Linked DNA regions of Homo sapiens. The protein of the gene in region 2 interacts with the protein of the main gene of each other region in a pairwise test. Each region holds a gene or a part of one and is shown on either strand. Other genes may lie near its edges.

Evidence for each region.
Region 1: the proteins of MMGT1 (region 2) and RUSF1 interact in binary tests that used the Homo sapiens proteins (3 or more experiments, as listed by UniProt).
Region 3: the proteins of MMGT1 (region 2) and TMEM254 interact in binary tests that used the Homo sapiens proteins (3 or more experiments, as listed by UniProt).
Region 4: the proteins of MMGT1 (region 2) and PEX16 interact in binary tests that used the Homo sapiens proteins (3 or more experiments, as listed by UniProt).

What each region holds. Positions count from the first base shown.
Region 1 is NC_000016.10:31,491,370-31,498,405, forward strand, and holds part of RUSF1 (RUS family member 1), read right to left. Parts: intron 5,582-7,036; coding exon 5,480-5,581; intron 2,568-5,479; coding exon 2,497-2,567; intron 2,419-2,496; coding exon 2,234-2,418; intron 2,156-2,233; coding exon 2,098-2,155; intron 1,680-2,097; coding exon 1,609-1,679; intron 972-1,608; coding exon 828-971; intron 718-827; coding exon 640-717; intron 1-639.
Region 2 is NC_000023.11:135,960,088-135,964,024, forward strand, and holds the end of MMGT1 (ER membrane protein complex subunit 5), read right to left. Parts: 3' UTR 501-3,937; downstream 1-500. UniProt on the Homo sapiens protein: Part of the endoplasmic reticulum membrane protein complex (EMC) that enables the energy-independent insertion into endoplasmic reticulum membranes of newly synthesized membrane proteins.
Region 3 is NC_000010.11:80,074,145-80,081,680, reverse strand, and holds the start of TMEM254 (transmembrane protein 254), read right to left. Parts: upstream 3,017-7,536; 5' UTR 2,982-3,016; coding exon 2,895-2,981; exon of another isoform or gene 2,656-2,894; coding exon of another isoform or gene 2,497-2,655; exon of another isoform or gene 2,488-2,496; intron 2,437-2,487; exon of another isoform or gene 2,001-2,436; coding exon of another isoform or gene 1,989-2,000; intron 42-1,988; coding exon of another isoform or gene 1-41.
Region 4 is NC_000011.10:45,909,137-45,914,887, reverse strand, and holds the end of PEX16 (peroxisomal biogenesis factor 16), read left to right. Parts: intron 1-203; coding exon 204-284; intron 285-419; coding exon 420-572; intron 573-684; coding exon 685-757; intron 758-949; coding exon 950-1,069; intron 1,070-3,925; coding exon 3,926-3,990; intron 3,991-4,575; coding exon 4,576-4,634; 3' UTR 4,635-4,710; coding exon of another isoform or gene 4,711-4,799; 3' UTR 4,800-5,225; downstream 5,226-5,751. UniProt on the Homo sapiens protein: Required for peroxisome membrane biogenesis. May play a role in early stages of peroxisome assembly. Can recruit other peroxisomal proteins, such as PEX3 and PMP34, to de novo peroxisomes derived from the endoplasmic reticulum (ER).

The DNA.
Region 1 (7,036 bases), on a different chromosome or scaffold from region 2:
GGTACAGTGACACAATCTGGACTCACTGCAACCTCTGCCTCCTAGGCTCAAGTGATCCTCCCATCTCAGCCTCCTGACAGTCCCACAGGCGTGCATCACCATGCACAGCTAATTTTTTTATATTTTTGGTAGAGACAGGGTTTCACCATGTTGCCCAGGCTGGCCTTGAACTCCTGAGCTCAAGTATCTGCCCGCCTTGGCCTCCCAAAGTGCTGGGATTACAGGTGTGAGCCACTGTGCCCGACAGTCTTTTTTTTTTTTTTTTTTTTGAGAGAGGGTCTTGCTCTGTCACCCAGGCTGGTACAATCATGGCTCACTGTAGCCTCGACCTCCCCCAGTTCAGGTGATCCTCCCACCTCAGCCTCCTGAGTAGCTGCAACCACAAGAGCAGAACCACACCTGGCTAATTTTTGTGTTTTTTTTGTACAGACAAGGATTTGCCATGTTGCCCAGGCAGGGTCTCAAGCAATCTGCCCACTTAGGCCTCCCAAGGCACTAGAATCATAGGTGTGAGCCTCTGCACCAGGCCCAAGAACCCAAGTCTTTTACCTTTCAGGTGAAAGGGTGGGAGTGGGGGAAGGCGGGGCCCCCAGGGACAAGGCTTCAGGGGCCAAGCAGCCATGGGCTGAGGGATGTTACCTTTCAAGAACTTTGGGAACAGCATGTCCAACACTTCGTGTGTCTCCTTGACGACGACCCAGCTCTCTTTCTTAGGACCTGGGTACGGGGGTGCAGAACCAGAAGCTCTGTGTCCTCCAGCAGGACAGAGTTTGTCCTCTCTCCTCCCCACCCTGAGGCATCAGCAGTCTAAATCTTGAGGCACTTACCTGCCCGCACCCGGTTCCTCAGCTCCTCCAGCTCTGCTGGAAGGGGTCCATCTCCCTGCAGGGCCCCAAGCATCAGCCCATGTGTGGCGGCCCTTAGGATGGTCTTGGGGCCTGCCTTCTGGTTCAGAACTACCTGTACCTGGTCTGGAGGGACCCAGAGACAGACTGGTATCAGGGAAGGGCCACCTCCCAAACCCCTTCTATCCCATCACCCTGCTTCCCCTGTCTGCCCCAAGACCTTGGCCTGGCACGGAAGGCTAGCACCTCACCCTTTCCTTTCCAATTCATCTCCTGTTGCTCCCCAATGTTCGGGCCAAACTGACCAATTTCCAAATACAATTTCCCAGCCGCTCACTGGGCTGGGTCTATTTTGCATTTCTTTAATGGCTAGTGAGAATAAGCACCTTTTCACACTCAACCAGCGGACCAGCACACTCAAGGACTTGTTTACCCAAGAGGCAACCCAGGATGGAGAGAAGGGTGGTTTCCCACGGACAGCAAAGGTCATAGCCTTCCTAAGAGTGCTGCAATGTAGCTTTGCAGTCACATTATTTGATCCTCATAAAAACACCGCAAGGAATAAGGCAGGTACTGTTAGCTCTGTTTTACAAAGCGGTGACATGAATTTCACTGGGGCATTGCAGCTGTAATTTGAACGGTCTAGAGCAACCCCCAGAACAGGCAGCCTCCAAACTGCCCAGAGCTCGGGGCCCTAGGTTGGAGGAATGAGAGGCTGACCTGGGAGGGTGCGTCTTAGGCTGGGAGAATGAGGCACACTCACTTTGTGACTGGTCCCAGCAGAGGAGGTAGGATTCTTGGTGCCCCTCAACCAGCTGCTGCAGCTCAAAGACACTGTGGGGGAGAGGACAGTGCAGTGGGGGTGGAGGACAGCAAAGGCAGGCATGCCCAACCAGCCACTGAACAGCCACCCAGTGAACTGAAATGATCCAGGCTTCACTCAGGTCCCCTCGCTTCCTCTCTCCCTCAGCCATTACCCATACACACCAAATCCATCCTTTCTTCCTGTATCCAGTCATCCAACTTCCCCATCTACCCATCCTTCCTTCACCCATCAAGCACATCTCTTACATCTGCTTCATGTTATACACCCTTTCCTTCCTCACACACCCACACCAACCCCATGTCTGTTCAGCAGCAATGAAGAACCCAGGACAGAGAGGTGGGGCCTTGCCAGGGAGGCCAGTGTGTAATCGGAGTGAGGGGAGTGTGGGTGGCGGTGGTGACGAGCGGGAGACGCTAGGCCACTCACCTGGAGACCAAGCGGTGTAAGGGGACCCCCAGGGATAGAGACGGAGCTGGCCAGAAACCTGTGGGAAGCTGGGGTCAGGATGCCTAGGCAGTGGGAGAGGTTGAGACACAGGACCCGAGACCAGGGGCAGGGTCACCTGTCCACAGCGGCTCCATGCGATTGGCTGCAGTTGGGTCGAGTACCTCTCCCCTCTGAAGGTAGTGCTTCAGGACCAGCCGGAGCCGGCCTTCGTTCAAGGTCTCCATGACCAGGGCTCGGACCGCGCGGTAGTTGGCGTAGATGTGGAGGGCAGTGAGGAAGAAGAAACATCCAAGGCTGAAGCTGGGGTGAGAGAGTGAGGTAGCTGAAGTGGGCAGAGGCCCAGCTGGGGTTCTCCTGCCCACCCTGCTTCCGGCTTACCCAGGGCAACCTGACACCAGAGGGAGCATCAGGAGGCTGACCAAGAGCCCCGCCAGGTTCACCAGCGTCTCCTGGAAAATGGCAGAGGGAGAAGGAGTTGGAAGGTGCCCCTCCAGGCCAGACTGAGTGCCCGAGTGCCTTTCACCTCATCCTCCCTGCTCCACAACCTCCCAGGGCTCCTTACTGCAATGTGGGTAAATTTTTAGTTTTTGGTGGGTGAAATGTCATTTAAAAGATGCCAGCTCGAGGTGGCTCACACCTGTAGTACCAGCACTTTGGGAGGCTGAGGTGGGCAGATCACTTGAGTCCAGGAGCTTGAGACCAGCTTGGGCAACATAGTGGGACCCTATTTCTACAAAAAAATTAAAAATTTGGTGGGGCATAGTGGCTCGCGCCTGTAATCCTAGCAATCTGGGAGGCCGAGGTGGGCAGATTCCCTGAGCTCAGGAGTTCAAGACCAGCTTCGGCAACACGGTGAGACCCATTGCATTTTTGTAAAAATACAAAAAACTAGCCAGGTATGGTGGCGCGTGCCTCTACTCCCAGCTACTCAGGAGGCTGAACTGCTTGAGCCTGGGAGGTGGAGGTTGCAGTGAGCTGAGATCACGCCACTTCACTCCAGCCTGGGCAACAGAGCAAGACTGTCTCCAAAAAAGAAAAAAAAAAAAATTAAGCCATGATTGCACCACTGTACTCCAGCCTGGGAGACACAGTGATACCCTGTCTAAATACATATGTGTATCAGTTGCTTTTTTGCCCAGGTAGGTGCCCTCGGAATACCCTTGAACACATCTTGTCTTGCAAGTCACCAGAACAGACCCACACTCAGGCACTCACTAATGTGTACTTTTTTTTTTTTTTAAAGAGCGAGGGTCTCGCTCTGTCACCCAGGCTGGAGTGCAGTGGTGCAATCATAACTCACAGCCACCTCAAACTCCTGAGCTCAAGTGATCCTACCACCACGCCTCTGCTAATTATTACTGCATTTTTTGGTAAAGATGGGTCTTGCTATATTGCCCAGGCTGATCTTGAACTCCTGGGCTCAAGCAATCCCCACCTCAGCTTCCCAAAGTGCTGGGATAACAGGCATGAGCTGGAATAACTTTTATTTACTGATTTTAAAAAGTTGACTGCTCCCCTCCCACCAAGCTCCTTTGGTATGCAGTAACTGGCAGATAGATTTGCAAAGGGGTCAAGGAACCACCCGGGAAGAAAAGGAACAAGACCCACACCTCTTCCCTTGTGTATCAATGTTAGGAGAACACTCTGATGGCTGGATTGAGATCACTCTAGGGGAAGGGACCCCAGGCTACCTGCCCCCAACTCATCATGAGGGAGGAGTCTGGATTGGTGCCCCTGACTACTGGGCTCCCAGGGAGAGCTGGTCCTGGCATAGAGAGGACCCGAGACTGGAGAGCTCTTCTCAACCAGCCCTCCTGGGAAGGGCATATGCTGTGGGAATAAACGCTGTGGGTGTGGCAGGAAACTGGGGATCAGGGACCTGGGGAGTTCAGGAGCTCCTCTCTCCCAGGTGGGAAGAGTCATTTCCAGTGGCCACATCCAGTGACAGCAAAGCTGCACTGGCAGAAAGCTGGAGTCTGCTGCGGGACTGACACATTCCCAGGTTAGTCCCGGATATGTCCCTGGCTCTGTGGACCGAGGAAGCCCTGGGGTCTTGGGAAAAATGGCTTGGGGTTAGGGGGAGGTCTGGGGACCAGCGAGAGAACAGGAGAGGGACACCAGGCATGGAGCTGGGAGTCCTGCGGTGAGGGACCTGTGCTGTGCTTCCTGCTTGCTCCTTAACAGCCTGTGGACTTAGGTTCAGAAGAGACAATGGGTGGAATAAGCCCGAGCATCCTGAGAGAAGGGACTTCCCCAGGGGCCCCCAGGGAGATGGGACCTCTCCATGCTTTATTTCTTCATCTGTACTAAGGCAACCATGAGCATTTACTGCACATGCCCACTGTGAGAATTTAAAGAGTTCCCAGAACCAAAATACTTGGCACATGGTTAGTGCTTAATAAATATTAGCTTGGGTTAAGATTATTGAGCCAAACAATGGAAGAGAAGGCCAGAAAGTAGGAATGCACAGAACAGCAGTTTCTAAATTGCTTCAGTGTCAAAGAAAACCATCTCACACTTCTGGGACTTCCCTGGGCCTTAATTTCCTCATCTGTAAACTAGGGATAAAGTAGTACCTACCTCAAAGGGTTGGTGTGAGAGTTTGTTTGTTTTTGAGACAGGGTCTTGCTCTGTCACCTGGGCTGGAGTGCAGTGGGGTGATCTTAGCTCACCACAGCCTCCACCTCCTGAGCTCGAGGCTGGGACTACAGGTGTGCACCACCACACCTAGCTGAAGTTTCTTTTATATATTATGTAGAGATGGGGTCTCGCCGGGTTGCCCAGGCTGGTTTCAAACTCCTGGCCTCAAGTGATCCTCCCACCTCAGCCTCCCAAAGTGCTAGGATGACAGGCGTGAGAGTTAAGTGATGCAGTACACGTAAGCACTCAGCACGGGGTTTGTAGAGGTCTAATCCATGCGGAGTTCAGCCTTAGGGGTGTCCCTACCCCAACTCCAGGCTCCCTAGGGTGGGCAAGGGGGCTGGGCCAGCAGGCCTGCTAAACTGCTGAGTGGAGGCCCCAGCCAGTGACCCAGCAACCCCACATGCTGGGTAACTCTGACTTGCCAATTGCCTTGACATGTGGGGCCTCATGTGATCAGAACATCCAGCTTGCACGGTGGGGTCTGAAGAGGGCAAGGCTGAGGGCTTGCTCTCAGCCACACAGGTGGCGGGCAGGGCCTGAGATCAGCTCGGACTTGCCGCCACCAGAGCCCAAACCCCTACTCCTGCCTGGGTGTCTTGAGTCAGCAGGGAGCACCCATACTTCTTCCTGTGTGTTCCTGGGCCCTCCAGGGCACTCAAGTGGCTTCTCTCCCCTTCCCCTCCCCACTCCACGCCCTCCCTCCAGCTCTGGCACTCACCTGGCTGCTGTCCTTGGCTGACACGTCAGCCATGTTGTTCCTCCGAGCCTGGTGCACGGTCAGGGCAGCCCGAGTGGCCCCACCAGCAACACTCACGATGCACTGGGTGGGAGGGGAAGAGAGAAGGTTGGCAGAGACACGTGTCCTGGTAACACAGGCACTCAGACCAGCTGGAGAAAACCTGGCCCCGGCCAAACTCTGAATGCTGTCCTTGGCATCTAGTTCTCACCTTGATGCCCCCTAGGCTCAACTTCCCTGTCCTGTTCTAGGAAACTGGAGTCCCACCTGCCACTATCACCTTGGGGACTGGCCTCACAGAAGCTCAATTTCATTCCCCAAGGTGGAGGCCCAAAGATCATTCTCAGCCCAGAACTCCCAGCCCTCCAGCTCCTGCTTGGGCTATACCCTCCCCATTACTGGCGGGAGGCTCAGGCTGGTTTCCAGCTTCATGCTTACATCTGCCTCCTGTAATTCCTCTACTCTCCTCCTGCCCCAGTTAAAGCTGTCGAAACCTACACTGATGGCCCTGACCTCCCAGGGTACCCAGATCTCTCCCTCTGAGATCGCAGGATAAAGCTAATCAAGGAGGGTCACTGGTCACTCACAATCATCCCGAGTTCATCAAAGCTCTTTTACTTATTACTATTTTTATTTATCCTTAGTTTTTGAATACAGACAGAGTCTCCCTGTGTTGCCCAGGCGGGCCTGGAACTCCTGGGCTCAAGAGATCTTCCCACGCCAACCTCCCAAAGTGCTGGGATTACAGGCGTGAGCCACCGCCCCTGGCTGAGGGCTCTTTTAGATGCCAGACATAGACTTAGGTGCTGTGATACAAGTCAGACCCAGGCCCTGCCCTCATGGAGCATACAGATCAACAGATAATAAACAAATAAACAAGTTAATACGCAGGCAGAGGAAACAGTCTGTTCAAAGGCCAGAGGAACGAGGGACAAAGTGAGGGCGAAGTGGCTGGCAGGGACCTGACCACACGGAGCCTGGCAAGCCTGGTGAAGGTCTTTCCCTAAGAGCAATGGAGCAGCAGAGTGACCTGATTGCTTTCCTCTTTGAAAGGATCACTGGGCTGCTCTGAGAGAGGAGCGGCACGGAGGCTACCTGGGAAGCAACGGTGCTCTCTCAGCAGTGAGAGGTGGTGACAGGAAGATGGAGGAGAGAATGGACTGGAGATTTTGAGGAGGGAAAAATAACAGAACTGAAGGTTCAGCCGAAGGTGACAGATAAGGGGAAGGGGGAAGAGGAGGAGGTGGTGGCAGTGGTGGTGGCGGCAGCATAGATGACAGCCAGGCTGGCTTCTCTTGGTGCAGCTGGAGATGGAGGTTGTGGAGAGGGGAACTCTAGAGAGGGGTCTTAAGAGGGAAGCTCATGGCCCTGTTCCATTCCCTTGTTGGACAGATGAAGAGACTGAAGTCTCAAAGGCAGAGTTTGAAGCAAAAGCCAGATGGCACAACCCTCGGTCCATAGCTACAGCCATGCTTTTCTCTGGGGTTTCCTACCCTGTTTAGGGGTGCTCGTAGCATTTAGGCTTGCAACCAAGGAAGC
Region 2 (3,937 bases):
AGCAACAGTGGTAAAATGTTAAAAATGGTGAACCTAAATGAAAAGTATACTGGTGTCCATCCTATTTTCTTTCACATTTTCTGTAGATTTGAAATTTTTCAAAATTAAATTTCAGGGAAAATATAATTTTAGATTTGGACAAAATGATATGAAAGCTTATCTGAAAAAAATAAACATGCAGTAACTAGAAAAAATTCCTAAAAATGAGGTATGGACTAGCAATACCCAAGACAAAAATATATAACAATTTAAAATAATTAAAAGACTCGTATTTTTTGCAACAGACTACAGAACCCAGAAGCATATCTAACCAGACATATGGAAATTTGATGTATGAATGAGGATGATGGTTTTTCCAATCAGTGTTGAAAAAGTTAATAAATGGGGTTAGAATAGATTGCTATTGGAGAGAAAAATGTTGAATCCTCTCCTCACTCTTACTACCTAGACAAATTCCAAATGAATCAAAGATTTAAAAGTTGAAAAAAAAACCTTTAAAATACTGGAAAAATACATTAAATTTATTCTTAAATGCAAAGGTGGCCTTTCTAAGCAAGGCAAAATCTCAGAAGCTGTAAAGACTAAGTTTAACTACATAAATAAAACTTAGGAAAATATTATTAAACATGACAATGGACCAATTTTCTTAGCTTACAAAAAGCTCATACAAATCAATAAAACACATACCACCTAATAGAAAACAGAACATGACTACACATTTCACAGGAAATATCAGTAATCAATAAACATGAAAATGTGTTCCATCTCCTTCATTAAAATGTACCAGACCTTCATTAAAATGCATTAGAACTTCATTAAAACGCAAGATACCATTTATTCACTTTCACATGATCAGACTTCAAAAGTTTAGTACCCAGTATTGGCATGGGTTTGGTAAATAATCATTCTCATACATTATATGTGGAAGCATACTGGGCAAAGATTTCTAGAGGACAATTTGGCAGTAACTACTGAACTGAAAATAAAAAATACCCTCTGATCCAGCAATTGTATTGCTAGGTACACTGTAGAATAAAAACTCATTATATGTACAAGTATATTCACCACAATGTGATTTAATATTGGAAACAACCTAAAGAGCCTATCAGTGTTTGAACATTTGTAACACATTCAAACATTAGAATACCACACAGCCGCTAAAAATAATGAGGTATTTTTATATATACTGATACAGAAAGATCTCATAAAACACAGGTAGCAAAAAAAGCAAGGTACAGAAGAGTATATATAGTCTGATTCTATTAATGTGAAATTTTTAAAGTACAAATTTGCTGATAAAAAATAAAAAATTGTTTTCCTGTGAGTACAAGACACTTGAAACTGGTTACTTTTGGAGAGGAGTATTAGGGTAGGAGGGAAGGGACCAAGTTTTTATACCTTTCTGTACCATCTGATCTTTTCGCCATGTGCATACATCATCTTTCTTGCCCCCACTCCCCTTTCTAAGAACACTTAATTAACAGGTTATTTTGAGATATTCCTAGGTAGGTTTGAATACCGGTGGTGTTATTTTTCAAAATACTGTAGATAAGTGCCAAGTTTTGCAATTTAGAACTTCCCCTTGGATTTTCATTAAACTTTATATTTGCTTCCTTGATGCTTTAATCATAACGATTTCCTATTAAGTATAAAGTGACACTTTCAATGGGAGTTTGGCTTTATAACAAATTTGTGATGGAATCATTAGACACTGCTGCTCAAGAACCCATTTTTACACCCCAAAGGGCATTTGATGATTTATAAACATCATCAAGATTATACATTCTATTTTGACTATTAAAAACATAAAACTGCAGTAAGATTTTACATGTACAATTAAATTATCCATTGAATTCAGTAAAACAGCATCACAGTAGAAAAATACAGTCATAAAATTAGCTCTTACATTTTTCTGGGGACAGAAAAGCAGAAGAAATGAGATTAAAAGTCCAAAAAAAAAAAGCCCAAAAAACACTACCAAAAACAGGGTGAGACAATCATTTATTTATTGGACAGGGCAAGGTCATTTAAAGATTGGAAACATATCCCAAAAACACGTGTTTAGTTTGGTGTTACAGGCATTGATGCTCACAACAAACAACATTATTCAATACATCATGTAAACAGGCCACATACAACCAGGAAGATGCTGTCAAGCCACTGAGAAGCCACAATGCTTAGAAAACAATCATTAGGGAGTTACAGAGAATAATCACCTCCAACTCATTGATATGCATATTCTGCGGCTGCACAGTATTTGGCTGGTTCCCTGGTTATTAAGTGAGTCGTTCCGTATTTTAAAGAGCCTTGATTGGTACACACTTCTGAATATCACTGAAATCAGTCAAGCAAAGGCTTAACTAGCTCACATCATATTTTTGAACTACCCTAGGCAATAATTGACTGTCTCACAGTACTGTAGATAAAATTCTGTACTTAGCATATTTAGCAGTGTTACAACGCATCCAAATCACCTTTAAGTCCTATGGTACATACTTGAAAAAGACAGCAGAAACTCACTGGAGTAAATGAAAAAAGAAATTTGGGGAGCTCACCTGGCCTGAGGTATACAAGCTGCTAGCAAAGATAGACACACGTGAAAACCACTTTGTCAATTATTTGCCAAGTCATTTGGCCTGATTTTTGGCCTGATTTTTAGCCTGATTTTTAGCAGGACTCTTCCCGACTGAGGAGGCAAAGATTTCAACATCCATTCTAGAGACTAGCCACAGTATTATAAGTAGTAATATATCATAAATGCTTGGTTATGAGGAAAAACTACTCAGCATAAGATTCACGGAGAAAAACCTGTTAGGTATCTGGCCCTCTTGCCTGAAATCTATTGATTTTACCAACCACTCCCTTTCACAGCAATAAGAGTTCTCAAGATGAGAAGAATTTTCTCACTCCATATAGAAAATCATATTTGGGAAGCCAGTCCCAAAAGACCGAATATTGTAGAATTCCATTTATATGAAATGACCAGAATAAGCAAATCTACAGAGAGAGAAATAGATTAGTGGTTGCCAGGGGCTCGGGGATGGGGTGGGCACTGGGAGAAAATGAGAGGTGACTGCTCAAGGGTACAGGGTTTCTTTTTGGGGTAACGAAATGTTCTAAAATTGACTGTGGTCACGGTTACACAACTTTGTGAATACACTAAAAACCACTAAATTGTACCCTTAAAATAAGTGAATTGTAAGGTATGTGAATTATATCTCAATAATGTTACAAACATATTAAGAAACGAAGACATACCCCAAAGAGAAGGAAACAAGAGGCTCTTCCAAACCAAATCGTACCAGAAGAAAACAGTAGCCAAGTCTGATGGAAGGAGCTTGTTTCTTGCATGCTATTTTATCATCATCACTTTAACCCGATTTCACATTTTTAATTCATTTCTAAATTATTTTAGGTTATCGGCAGATTTCTAACTTTGTTCTCATTAGAGAGCAGAGTCAGTGTTCCGCAGACAGACTGGGCTGGCGTAACAAACCAAAACTAAACAACAATAAAAACCCAATGAAAAATAATCTCATGCTTTGGGGCTATGTGTTACCAGTCAGAAGAGAAGAGCTGATGTCCATTTCTAAAGGAAAATAAAATGCCTACAAGTACAATGGCATCTTATGACTCATGCCTAAAGCACATTTCCTTTTCAAACCTGCATACAGTTATTCCCTTTTTACACCTATACAATTCAACAAAAGCAATGTTTTTATACCTGTACAATCCAAAAAAAGCAACGTTCTCTACAAAGAAATGTTGAGCTTCCTACAGCTCTCTAGCTCAAAGAGCTAGCCAATTTCCTTAAAAGTAAAATTACTGTTTCTAAAAATATCAACTCTGTATCCTCATCCTCACTTTCAGCAACATACAGTGAAGATGGAAAACTTGAAGACTGCTATAAACCAGAAACTACAAAACAATTTCTTAA
Region 3 (7,536 bases), on a different chromosome or scaffold from region 2:
CTTTCTTTTTTTTTTGACAGGGTCTCACTCCGCTGCTGGGGCTGGAGTGCAGTGGCATGATCATGACTCACTGCAGCCTCCACCATCTGGGCTCAATCCATCCTCCCACCTCAGCCTCCCAAGTAGATGGGACTACACGTGTGTGCCACCATGCCCAGCTACTTTTAAAAATTGTATATAGAGATGGGGTCTCACTATGTTGCCCAGGATGGTTTCCAACTCCAGGGCTCAAGCAATTCTCCAATCTTGGCCTCCCAAAGTGCTGGGATTACAGGCATGACCTACTGTGCCAGGATGACTTCTATTTTCTAAAAGCAACTCTACTGGGAGACTTATGCTGAGGAAAGTATGTGGTTATCAGACTCAGTGCCCACGGTGGATGACTCTTAAAGTCTTTTTTTCTTCCTTTTCTTCTTTTGTTTTCTTTGTAGAGAAGGGATCTCGCTTTGTCACCCAGGCTTGAGTGCAGTGGCCTGATCACGGCTCACTGCACCCTTGACTTCCCGGGCTCAAGCGATCCTCCCAACTCAGCTTCCCCAAGTAGCTGGAATACAGGCATGGCTACCACGACTGACTAATTTATTTATTTATTTATTTATTTTAGATGGAGTTTCACTCTGTCGCTTAGGCTGGAGTGCAGTGGCACGATCTCGGCTCTCTGTAACCTCCGCCTCGCGGATTCAAACGACTCTCCTGTCTCAGCCTCCAGAGTAGCTGGGACTACAGGTGCATGCCACCACGCCCAGCTAATTTTTGTATTTTTAATACAGACAGAGTTTCACCATGTTGGCCAGGCTGATCTCCAACTCCTGACATCAGGTGATCCGCCCTTCTCGGCTTCTCAAAGTGCTGGGATTACAGGTGTGAGCCACTGCCCATGGCTAATTTTGTGTGTGTGTGTGTGTGTAGAGATGAGGTTTTGCCATGTTGCCCAGGATGGTCTCGAACTCCTGGGCTCAAGCGATTTGCCCGCCTCGGCCTCCCAAAGTGCTGGGATTACAGGGGTGAACCACCATGCCTGGCTGACTCCTATTAATACATTCCACCAAAACCATTATTTTATAAAAGATATTAGCAAATTTTGAGTTTATGTGCTTTGGCTAGTTTCTTTACTGCAGAAACTGGCTCCAGCCAAACCTCTGTTTAATTTAGAATTCCTTTCTCGGCTTTCCCTTTTTGTACGGCTAAAACTGAGAATGATCCACTGCATAGAGATGGAAAATAAGTGAGATAAGGTTGTGACATTTTAATAGCAACTGCTTAATCACATAAATTTTTCGTAATCTTAACTTTCAGCCTCTGTATTGTAACTTCTGTCAGCTAAGACTTTTCTGAGAATAACTCAACAGTTTCAAAATGTATTGTCCCATTCAAATCTTTGTCAAGAGCAGTACTACCTCTCTCACGATGTTGTTTCACATCTGAAAGTTAAATAATGCACAAATATCACTGCATCCTCCCAAACCAAAGGGAAAGGGGAGCATCTGCCAGCTCCACAAGATCCCAATTTGAAGTCCCCAAAGCTTTCCTCCAACTATATTCTAACTAGTCACAGACACTAAATCGTAGAACAGAAATGCACCTTTGAAAATTTTCAGTTCAACACCTCCATTGTACATATGGGGAAATCAGGACATAGGTTGTCAGATTTGACACCAACAAACAACACTGTGGACAAGACAAATCTCCAATCTCCAGGATCTATTGGTATACCCAAATAGCTTCGCCTTCCTTCAAAATTTTACCACCTTATCACTTGACGTTAGGAGTTCGAGGCCAGCCTCACCAATACCCATGTCTACTAAAAACACAAAAAAATAGCTGGGCATAGTGTAATCCCAGCTACAGGTAAAGACATGAGAATCGCTTGAACCTGGGAAGCAGAGGTTGCAGTGAGCCGAGATCGCCCCACTGCACTCCAGCCTGGGTGACAGAGCGAGACTCCGTCTCAAAAAAACACAAAACTACCACCTTAGCCCCCAACCTACTTTTCCACGCATCTTTCTCGTTATCCTTTAAACAGATTATTTCTCAGCCAAACAAACGTCGCTCTTTTTCTAGGTACAGCTTTCTTCTTGCTTCCACACCTATGTCAGAACAGTTATAGCCTCTTTATCCTCCCTTACCACTTAAATCCTACCCATCCTTTAGATTTATCCCCGTTTTCCAAACAATTCCTATTGGCTCAAACATTCTGCTTCGGAAGCCCTATTCTGACTTGGCAGGCCTATGGCAGTCTGTTAACTTGACTTTCCGCTTCGTGAGAGGCTTAGGCTCGGATAACCCGTTAGTAACCATGCAGAGGTGAGGACCCAAAGACAGGAACACTAGAAAGCAGAAACTATCCTAAGAGCCCACCGAATTTCCGCTTACATGAGTAACCGAGACAACCGTCAGATGCGCGTGCGCACAGGCCCCGTTCCCAGAGCTCCCCTCGCCCTACGAGGGCCCGGCGGGCCAAAACAGAGGCCCGCCCCGCCCCACCCCACGCCTCACCGCGAAGTAGCCCAGCCCCAGGACTGTGACCAGAGAGGGCAAGGGTCTTGCTGGACGGAAATAGGCGGTAGCCGCATTGCTGGCCTCCGACTTCACCATCCTCTTGAAAAACCCAGACACAGAGTTGGCTGGGAGCTCCCCAGCCGTCCCCGCCCCCATATAAGAAAAGCCTGGCTAGCCGGTTTCTCAGGGCCCTGGGCGCCCGCCCAAGACCCTGGCGGACCAGTATGCTTGCTCTCATTGCGGAGTCTGGTCCCCTCCCCTCCGCTCCTAGCGCGCGGGAGTCGGGATTGTGCTTGCACGACTTCCCCCGGCCCGCGGCCTGTGAGCCCAGGTCCTGGGGTGAACCGAGCGCTCGCTCGTTCGTCAGACCGTAGCGCTCCAGCGGCTGTCCTTACTGTGTAGTAGCCAAAGCTGAGGGTGATGACTGTGAACCAGAACAGACTGCCTCGCTGAAAGTAGGTCGCGCCGGCTGCCGTAGCCATGGCTGCAACACCTCCCCGGGAGCGCGCTTCAGGACACCGTCGAGCGCGAGCGCGGAGGCAGGGCCGGGGCCGGCCCGCGCTCCCTCGCCATCCCCGCAGGGAGAAGATGGTGCTGGTTGGGAAGTCCCTGAGAGCGAGTCTCCCTGTCTGGCCCCAGTACAGGGGCCTTGGAATCACACCTGGGCTCAGGTCTGGAGGGCTGGTCATCATCTTGTAGGGGAGACACTCCTGTCACTTTTCTGGGTTTAAGATAAAGATGTTCGGGCTGGCGCGGTGGCGTGTCCCTGTAATCTCAGCACGTTGGGAGGCTGAGGTAGAAAGATCCCTTGAGCCCAGGAGTTTGAGACCAGCCCGGGTAACATAGCTAGACTCTGTCTCGAATGAATGAATGAATGAATGAGGTGTTGGAATAAATTCCAGCAATTTGGGAGGCCGAGTCGGGCAGATCACTTGAGGTCAGGAGTTTGAGACCAGCGTGGTCAACATGGTGAAACCCCGTCTGTACTAAAAATACAAAAAATTTGCTGGGCGCGGTGGTGCCTGCCTGTAGTCCCAGCAACTCCAGAGGCTGAGACAAGACTCTCTTGAACCTGAGAGGTGCAGGTTGCAGTGGGCCCAGATCACGCCACTGCACTCCAGCCTGGGCAACACAGCAAGACCCTGTCTCAAAAAAAAAAAAAAAAGATGGTGTTTTACTAAGAGTCTAATTTTTGAAGTTCTCTGTGCTGTGCACCTTGAGAAATAATGCTGTCCTCATTAGTTAAGATGTTTGGAACTATACAGCACCATGGTTATGAGCAGGGACTGTGAAACAGGCTGCCTGGATTTAAGTCCTGGCTCTGTCTCGGCTATTTGTGTAAGCTTAGATTAATTACTTAGCCCGGCTGTGTCTTAGTTTCTGTATCTGTAACATGAGGATATGCCAGTTTTGGGAACCTCAGGGTTTTTAGGGTGGGTTAAATGAGTTGATATCTGTAAAGAAAGCACAGCAGTGTCTGGCCCATAGTGCTTTGTAAGTGTGGGTGATTATCAATACTGCTGAGCCTTTAGCATGTGTGCCAGGCCCTGTGCGAACTGTTGTATCATCAATGAGCTGTGGGAGGTATATGCAGCTGAAGTGTCTGATTAAACACTATTTAATCATAGAAATAGAAAATCATAGAAATAGAAAAACTATTTCACCTGGGCCTTAAAAATGGGTTACTGGCCAAGCGCAGTGGCTCAAGCCTATAATCCTGGCACTTTTGGAGGCCGAGGTGGGTGGATCGCTCAGGAGTTCGAGACCACCCTGGAGAACATGGTGAAACCCTGTCTCTACTAAAATACAAAAAATTAGCTGGGGGTGGTGGCGCGTGTCTATAGTCCCAACTACTTGGGAGGCTGAGGCACGAGAATTGCTTGAGCACCGGAGGCGGAGGTTGCAGTGAGCCGAGATCCAATCACTGCACTTCAGCTTGGGCTATAGAGTGAGACTCCGTCAAAAAAAAAAAAAAAAAGTTACTATACTGTAGCTGGTATTTATTGAACACCTACTATGTTCAAGGCATTGTTCTAAGTACTATACAATAATTAACTAATTTAATTCTTAAAACAATCCTAGGCAGTAAACTATTGTCCTTATTTCAAAGAAGAAGAAACAGCACAGGGTCCTGTCATGCCCAAGTGGGTGAGGAATACTGGAAAACAATTGGCAGCTGAGTGTTCCAGTTCCAGAGAGGGCACTCTGGAACCAACCAAGGTTCTCTTTCCTCATTTTTTACGTGAGTATCTTGGGATATAAAGTCTTAAAGAATGAATTTCAGAATATGTGAGGAAATCCATTTCCCAGGTAGACCACAGTGCTCTTGAATATCAAGATTAACAGTAACAATTGTAACAATTGGTGTTTTCTTAGTCCTTATCATCCTTGATCACACCACCCTCTTTATTCTTCTCCTCCTTCTGAATAACTCCTTGTTTTCTCAGCTTTCCTTTTCTTTCTTCTCTCCTAGAATAAGTTTTGCTTATTATCTTCTTTGTGTTTTCAGTACCTATCAGATTCAATTTTCACCTTCAGCTGACTAAAATAATCTCTTCAGCCCTCACCTCTTCCCAGTTGGTCACCTTTACCAAAGATTACTCACACCTCAAAGACAAGAAGTCCATTATCATTATCCACAGAGTCCATCCTCACCAAGGCTACCCTGTCTGTGGTTTTTTTTTTTTTTTTTTTTTTTTTTGAGATGGAGTTTTGCTCTTGTTGCCCAGGCTGGAGTGCAGTGTTGCGATCTCGGCTCACTGCAACCTCTGCCTCCCCACTTCAAGTGATTCCCCTGTCTCAGCCTCCTGAGTAGCTTGGATTACAGGTGTGCACCACCACGCTTGGCTAATTGTGGAGACGGGGTTTCACCATGTTGGCCAGGCTGGTCTCGAACTCCTGACCTCAGGTGATCTGCCTGCCTCGGCCTCCCAAAGTGTTGGGATTACAAGTATGAGCCACCTCGCCCGGCCTACTCTATGTGAACAGCACTTTCTTTCTACCTTGTACCCAGATTCCTTGCTTTGACTTCCCCCATATCATATAAAGATTGCAGACTAATCAGCTGTCAAGAGTTCTACTGATTGGGTAATACAATATCTAATCCTTCTAGATTAAATCATGGCTTCATCTCCACTGTCTCATGAGTCAGTCACTCCTTCCTACTTCCTGCCACTTCAGCCCACATGCAGTCCCTTTATTGAATCTGTCTGACAAATAACAGGATCATCTTTTTCAAGTACAGTTCTGATCAAGCCTTTACCATACCAAAACTTTTTTTTTTTTTTGAGACAGAGTCTCACTCTATTGCTCAGATTGTAGTGCAATGGCGCAATCTCAGCTCACTGCAACCTTGGCCTTCTGGGTTCAAGTGATTCTCCTGCCACACTCTCTCTAGTAGCTGGGACTACAGTCACATGCCACCACACCCAGCTAATTTTTTGTATTTTTAGTAGAGATGGGGTTTCGCCATGTTGACCAGGCTGGTCTCAAACTCCTGACCTCAGGTGATCCACCTGCCTTGGCTTCCCCAAGTGCTGAGATTACAGGTGTGAGCCACCATACCCAGCCTACCTTACCAAAAGTTTCAAGAACTTCCCCAATTTTAGGCTGCCGTTTTTCAGTATTTCTATTTAGGTATTAAATCTGCAACGAGGGAGATATTGGAGAAATTATTCATGCTACAAGAAATGTTGGAGAGGCAAAATGGCTTCAGTCAACAGACTACAGGGAGCTAGGTTTTAGTTTCATGTCTTCTACAACCCTGCTTGGAGCCCAGCCTGTTACTTAGTGTCCTATGTCTTCCAACTCCACACTATTTTTTTTTTTTTTAATAGAGACGGTGCTTCACTATGTTGCCCAGGCAGATCTCAAACTCCCAGCCTTAAGTAATCCTTCCACCTCAGCCTCCCAAAGTGCTGGGATTATAGTTAGAGGCTGTACCTGGCCACCAACAGCTCAACACTAAACATCTTACTGTTAGCCCCTCACGCACAGATAAGGAATCCAGAAGACAGTACCAGAAGATCTTTGTTCAGATGTGAGTAGTTTATGTAAATTCATGAAGAACTTACAGTCAACTGGATGTTCAGAAGGCATTCCTTTCTTCATTACAGTCACCCTTCACACACGGCAGGGGTGACTGAATTCTCTAAGGTCCAGGCACCCTACACTGCTGTCCCATCTGAATTGGCAGAGAAATATCTCATCCCTGGACATTTTTATCCCCCTGTCTAGATGGATTAGTGACCTAAATATGAAAAATAATGAAGAAAGTCTGGGAGAATAGTTTTACAACTTTTGAGGGAGGGGAAGGAAACCTTTTAGCAAGTTATTAAAATTAAAAGCCATAGAAGGAAAGATTGAAAATTTAACTGCATCCAGATGAAAAGCTTCATTCATATGAATGACACTGTAAATAAAGTTGAAATACCTGGAAGAAGGAATTCTCCAATATATGTAATTGACAAATGATTAAAGGATATGAATTGGGCATCCTCAAAAGAGAAAACTTGAGACCAAGCAAAATGAAAGGATGGTTCAATCTTAATGGCCCTATGGGATACGCAAAATAAAGCAAAAATAACATTGTTTTTCCTCATAAGATTGGCCTACTAGATATCAAGACACACTGTAAAGAGCTATAATAATGTAAAACATTTGGCACTTGACATGCAGAAATCAACAAATGGATCAATGAAAAAATAATGCAGACTCCAGACATGGATCTGGTATATACATATCCAAGCGTTTATTTTATAATAAAGGTAACATTTCAAATTAAGGAAGGAATAATGGATTATTCAGTAAATTATTTTGGGGCAATTAGTTATCTATTCCAGAAAAAATATTTTAAATAATACTGTCCACTCCCAAACACAAATACACAAATGATGCAGTATCAAGAGATACAGAGGTATTAATAAGTAGTCCTCCTTGGGGAGTTATGATGAGGTGGCTATAGGATGGACAAGTGCTGAGATACAGCAAAAAACTCCCACACCTTCCCAGGATTATAGGATGGGGGAAGGGCGACCT
Region 4 (5,751 bases), on a different chromosome or scaffold from region 2:
GAGGGCTGCAGAGTGCTTTCCTCTGTGGACGGGTCTTGTGCTGAGCCGCCACCCTGCTTGTAGTTCCCTTGACTCAGCTGTTGCCATAGTACAAGCTCATCTGTTCTCCCCTTAGCTCCTGAGCATTCACTGCACACGTTCTTTGCAGGCTCCGCTGGAAGCATGTCCCTCTGACTGTATGGCCTTCTGTCTATCCCTGCTAGATGGTGACCACAGCCCTGGCAACCATGAGCAGTCCTACGTGGGGAAGCGGTCAAACCGGGTGGTGCGAACCCTCCAGAACAGTAAGTGGAGGATGTGGCTGGCCTGGGCACCTAGGTGCTGTCTGCCTGGGCTTGAGGGACTGGCTTTGGTCAGCAGCCACCTTCCCCTGCCCCAGCCTGGGCCTGGCTCGCTCATCTGCCGCCCTTGTGTTCTAGCGCCGTCCCTGCACTCCAGGCACTGGGGAGCTCCCCAGCAGCGGGAGGGACGGCAGCAGCAGCATCACGAGGAGCTGAGTGCGACCCCCACCCCCCTGGGGCTGCAGGAGACCATCGCAGAGTTTTTGTACATTGCCCGGCCGCTGCTGCACTGTATCCTTAGCGCGGGGCAGGATAGGGCTGGCACTGTGGGCTGGGGATTGAGTGGGGAGTGTGCTGAGCAAGGCCCCTGTGCTGGAGACATCCTTGACGCCTTGGCCGTCAGTGCTCAGCCTGGGCCTGTGGGGTCAGAGGTCGTGGAAACCCTGGCTCTTGGCTGGTGTTGTGGACGTGACCAGGTGAGCCTGGGCCTGCCTGGGGCTTCACTCTCCACTGGGCTTTCTGCTATAATCCTGGCCTCACATAGGCGGGGTGGCAGCGGCCCCTGCTCCTCCTGTTGCTGCCCCTCTGGACACCCAGCCCATGGCTCCTCCCCTTCCGTGGGCCTAGATCATGCCCCTGGCCCTGACCATGTCCTCCCTGCCTCCCAGCCTGAGCCTCCTGAGTGACAGAAAGGGCCTGACCCGGAGGGAGCGGCGGGAGCTGCGGCGCCGGACCATCCTGCTGCTCTACTACCTGCTGCGCTCTCCTTTCTATGACCGCTTCTCCGAGTAAGCACCCAGGACACCCTGAGCCAGGGAGAGGGCTGGCAAGCGGGCACTGGTGCTCCGGTCCCTGCTGGCGCCTTCCCTTCCCCACGCCTCATCCAGGGTTCACCAAGCACTGTGTGTTGTCCGGGTGGCAGTCACCAGATGCCAGCCCAGTCCCGCCCGCAGAGCTCTCTGGGCCATCAGGCCACTTGAGCAGGAACTTAAACATTGGTTGGCAGGAGAGGCACTGAGGGCAGGGCTGAGGGCATTGCCAGGTGGCCCACAGGGATGGCGACAGGGCGGGCGCCCATGGCCTCTAGCTCATTTCCACTTCTTCCTGCCAAATAGTTTGGCTTATCCTCACTTCTCAGAGGAGGACCTGGAGGTTCAAGGAGGTTGGGCAACTTAAAGACACCCAGCTAGCCAGTGGTAGAGCTAGATCCCAAACCCAGGATCTCCCCTGGCCTTCCCTGCCTGGCCCAGCCCCCACTCAGTCACCTGCGAGGGTCCAGAGCTCCCAGCCTGAGAGAGGCCTGCTGGGTTGAGCAGGGGGCAGCTTGGGACTAGTTCTTCCACAGGCCTGCCACTATGACTGCTTGAGGTTAGACCACAGTCTGACAGGGGGAAACCCTGTGCAGTGGCTGGGACTGTGAGGCAGACAAGGCTCCCGGGACCCCCTTTGTCTAGGACCTAATAATAGCTTAAAAACTGGCATAGGCTGGGCAGCAGTGGCTCACACCTATAATCCTAGCACTTTAGGAGGCCAAGGCAGGAGGTTGGCTTGAGGCCAGGAGTTCGAGACCAGCCTGGGCAACCCAATTCTACAAAAAAAAAAAAAAAATAATAATAATTAGCCAGACATGGTGGTGTGCGCCTGTAAGTCCTAGCTACTCAGGAAGCTGAGGCATGAGGATCAGGCCAGGAGGCTGAGGCTGCAGTGAGTTATGATCACTCCATCCCACTCTAGCCTGGGTGACAGAGTAAGTCCCTGTCTCAAAAAAACAAAACAGAAAAAAAAAAACAAAACTGGCATAGTTTAGCCAGGCACGATGCCTCACACCTGTAATCCCAACACTTTGGGAGGCCGAGGCGGGCGGATCACAAGGTCGGGAGGTAGAGACCATCCTGGCTAACATGGTGAAACCCTGTCTTTACTAAAAATACAAAAATTAGCCAGGTGTGATGGCACACGCCTGTAGTCCCAGCTATTCAGGAGGCTGAGGCAGGAGAATCGCTTGAACCCAGGAGGCAGAGGTTGCAGTGAGTCGAGATCGCGCGACTGCACTCCAGTCTGGGTGACAGAGCGAGACACTGTCTTTTTTTGTTTGTTTGTTTTTGAGATGGAGTCTGGCTCTGTTGCCTGCCTAGGCTGGAGTGTAGTGGTGCAATCTTGGCTCACTGCAAGCTCTGCCTCCCGGGTTCATGCCATTCTCCTGTCTCAACTCCTGAGTAGCTGGGACTATAGGCGCCCATTACCATGCCTGGCTAATTTTTTTTGATTTTTTAGTAGAGATGGGGTTTCACCGTGTTAACCAGGATGGTCTCGATCTCCTGACCTCGTGATCCGCCTGCCTCGGCCTCCCAAAGTTCTGGGATTACAGGCGTGAGCCACCGCGCCTGGCCTGACCCATCTTTTTTTTAAAACAGAAAAAAGAGTAAGGCTGCTCCTTCTGGACCACACCCTGGCACCTCTCTGGACCCTGCTCCCTGTCCTTTAGGGAAACAAAGGCCCGCCTTGGCCTCCTAAAGTGCTGGGATTATAGGTGGAGCCACTGCACCCAGCCAGCCTTCTTCTTTTCTTTTCTTTTGTTTTTTGGGACGGAGTTTCACTCACGTTGCCCAGGCTGGAGTGCAATGGCGTGATCTCGGCTCACCGCAACCTCTGCCTCCCGGGTTCAAGCAATTCTCCTGCCTCAGCTTCCCAAGTAGCTGGGATTACAGGTGCGCGCCACCACGCCCGGCTAATTTTGTATTTTTTAGTAGAGATGGGGTTTCTCCATGTTGGTCAGGCTCGTCTCGAACTCCTGACCACAATTGATCTGCCCGCCTTGGCCTCCCAAAGCGCTGGGATTATAGGCATGAGCCACCACACCCGGCCCCCAGGCTTCCTCTTTTCTTGCTGCTCAGACAGACATATAAGGAGTCAGGCCGCCTTCCAGATGTGTAGCCTTGGGCAAGTTATTTGATGCGCCTGTGCCTCATTTCCTCACCTGTAAGATGGGGATGATGACAGTACCCACTTTGTAGGGGTTCAGTGACTAACGCGTACAGCAGTGCGTGGGGTGTAGTAAGCACGTAGCGCTATGTATTGTCATCAGCATCCTCATCTCACCCGAGTTCCCCTGTGGAAAACCCTCCTGTCTTAAAAATCAGGGCCTTGGGCCTTGCCCCTTCCCCTGAACCAAAATGTGCCCTCTTCAGTACTGTGTCCCCTACCAAGGTCCTGACTACTCTCATTGGTGGCTTGTGAGGTTTCCATGCAGCCCAGCACTTCTGCCAGACTGGGGGGCTTCCCGAGGGCAGGGTGGGGTTGTCCTCCCTGGACCCTCCACCATACTGCCAGGGCGCTGCTCCACATGCGACCCTCTAGAGGCCTTCAGTGTTGGATGTCGGTGGAAGGGGAAAGAGGAATGGGAGGAGGTGTTGTGGGTCAGCGGCCACCCCGAAGCTGAGCTGGTGGAGGGTGGAGGCCAGAGCCAACCCCAGAGGTCTTGCCCTTGTGTACCGGGCTTTGTCCTAGCTCCCAAGAAAGTCACCTTTGTTTTCTGGAATGCGCTGCATTCGGCACGGTGGTCAGTGAAGGCCTCTGGGCCTCCTGGTTTGCAGGGACCCACCCCCACCCCACTCAGCTTGCTCCCCATTTATTGCCTCCCCCAGGGCCAGGATCCTCTTCCTGCTCCAGTTGCTGGCCGACCACGTCCCTGGCGTTGGCCTGGTCACAAGTAAGCAGGGATGGGGACGCGATGACTGTAGTGCTGGAAGGCGCATGCATGCAAGCACCTCCCTGACTCCTCTGTCTCCTTGCAATTTGATTCTTGGCACAGTCAGGAGAGGAAGTCGGGAAGTCAGGATTGGGTGGGACTGCCCCTGGGCATAGGCCAGGGTGGCCTGAGGAGCCAGGGATGGCTGGAAGGAGGGTGTCCACTGGTGGGGGGACCACATCAGCTGCCAGCTTTTTTCTGGTCACAGTATCCTGGAGCGATACGGGACCATCTCATCTTGGGGGGATTCAATGGCAGAGAAGGGGTCCACCGGGCTGCTGAGATCCTCCCTCAGCAGAGGCCCACTGGGCTTGGGTTGGGTGACTGGACCTGACTCAGGCCCCTCAGTGTCTACCCTGGCTGAGCTTCTCTGGGCCTGAGGGTCTTTGTAAATGGTGCCAGAGTCCCCTGCAGTGCTGCCTCCTGGGGGCAGGGCAAGACAGCCAGCTGGGCTGGCTCCTGGGCCGCAGGGGTGAGGTGCTGTATGTGGCGCCACAGTGCAGATTGGGGTCTGGCCTGCCCTGATGTGTCCCTCTCCCACTGCAGGGCCGCTCATGGATTACTTGCCCACCTGGCAGAAAATCTACTTCTACAGTTGGGGCTGACAGACCTCCCGGAAGGAGGGTGTGGGGAGGGGTGGGGCAGGGAGCCCCTCTTCCCTAATAAAACTGACTCCGGCAGCGTCCCAGCGTGCGGCCTCTCCGTGCCTACCGGCCAGGCCCCACACACAGCCCTGGTCGCCACCAGCGTTCCTCCCAGGACACCCTTGACTGCGCTCTCCTGTGACGATGCCACTGCAGCCCGCACCTTGTCACTGCTGGGCCAAGAAGCCTTCACTAGGAGTGGGATCCAGGCTCCTCTCCCACAGAAAGCGGTGACTTCACCTCATGGAGCCCGGGAAGCTGCTCGCCTCGGCAGCCATAGGAGCGAACACTGCTGCTCTCTCGCTGGCCCCTGGTGAGGACAGGAAGCCTGAACCCGGGTGATGGCTGAACGCTGCCCAGCGTGTCTTCTGGCTGGGGCCCTCCGTCTGCCCCTTCTCCGCAGGGCCCTGTGGCTCTGGCAGCCCCAGGCCATGGCGTTGCCAGCCTCCCTGTGACAGAGCCTGGTGAACAGTGAGCCTGGCTCCCACGCAAGTGGCACTTTAAGCCCTGCATCCTCGGTTGAGAGTAAAAGGCTTTTCTCCCTTAGAAAAAGGACATCGGGCACTGGCCAGCACTGGGGAGGGAGTGGGAGCTGGACAGGCTCGGGGAGGAAGCCGGGGCCAGTTCAGGGGGTATGAGCTGGGGTTTCCCCATGCTTGCCCTGCAGGCTCCAGAGGCCGGGTCCACCTGGAGCCATGCAAGCTGCTATGGGGGAGGGCCTGGACAGGGTGGGCCGCAGGCTGGTCGTCTTCTCCCTGAACTTAGCCTGTCCTCAGCCACTGGCCCTGTGAAGAGCCAGCCTCTCATGCTAGAGTTTCAAACCCACAGAGAGGGCTCCATCTACACCTTGGTCCTCCATGCCTCAGCTCCTCCAAGACACACTGCTTTCCCCAGGGCCCTCTGAGGAGCGCCCCCCAGGTCCTCACCCACAGGCAGGGGAAGGGGCTGCCTGGGCTCCCATGGCCTCCAGCTTAGTGGAACAGGCGTTTCTGGGCACATGCCTGGCCATCAGAAACCAGCAGTGAAGCACAGTCCCCTGCCCTCCGCCTCTCACCAACGGAGGAAACAGGCATGTGGA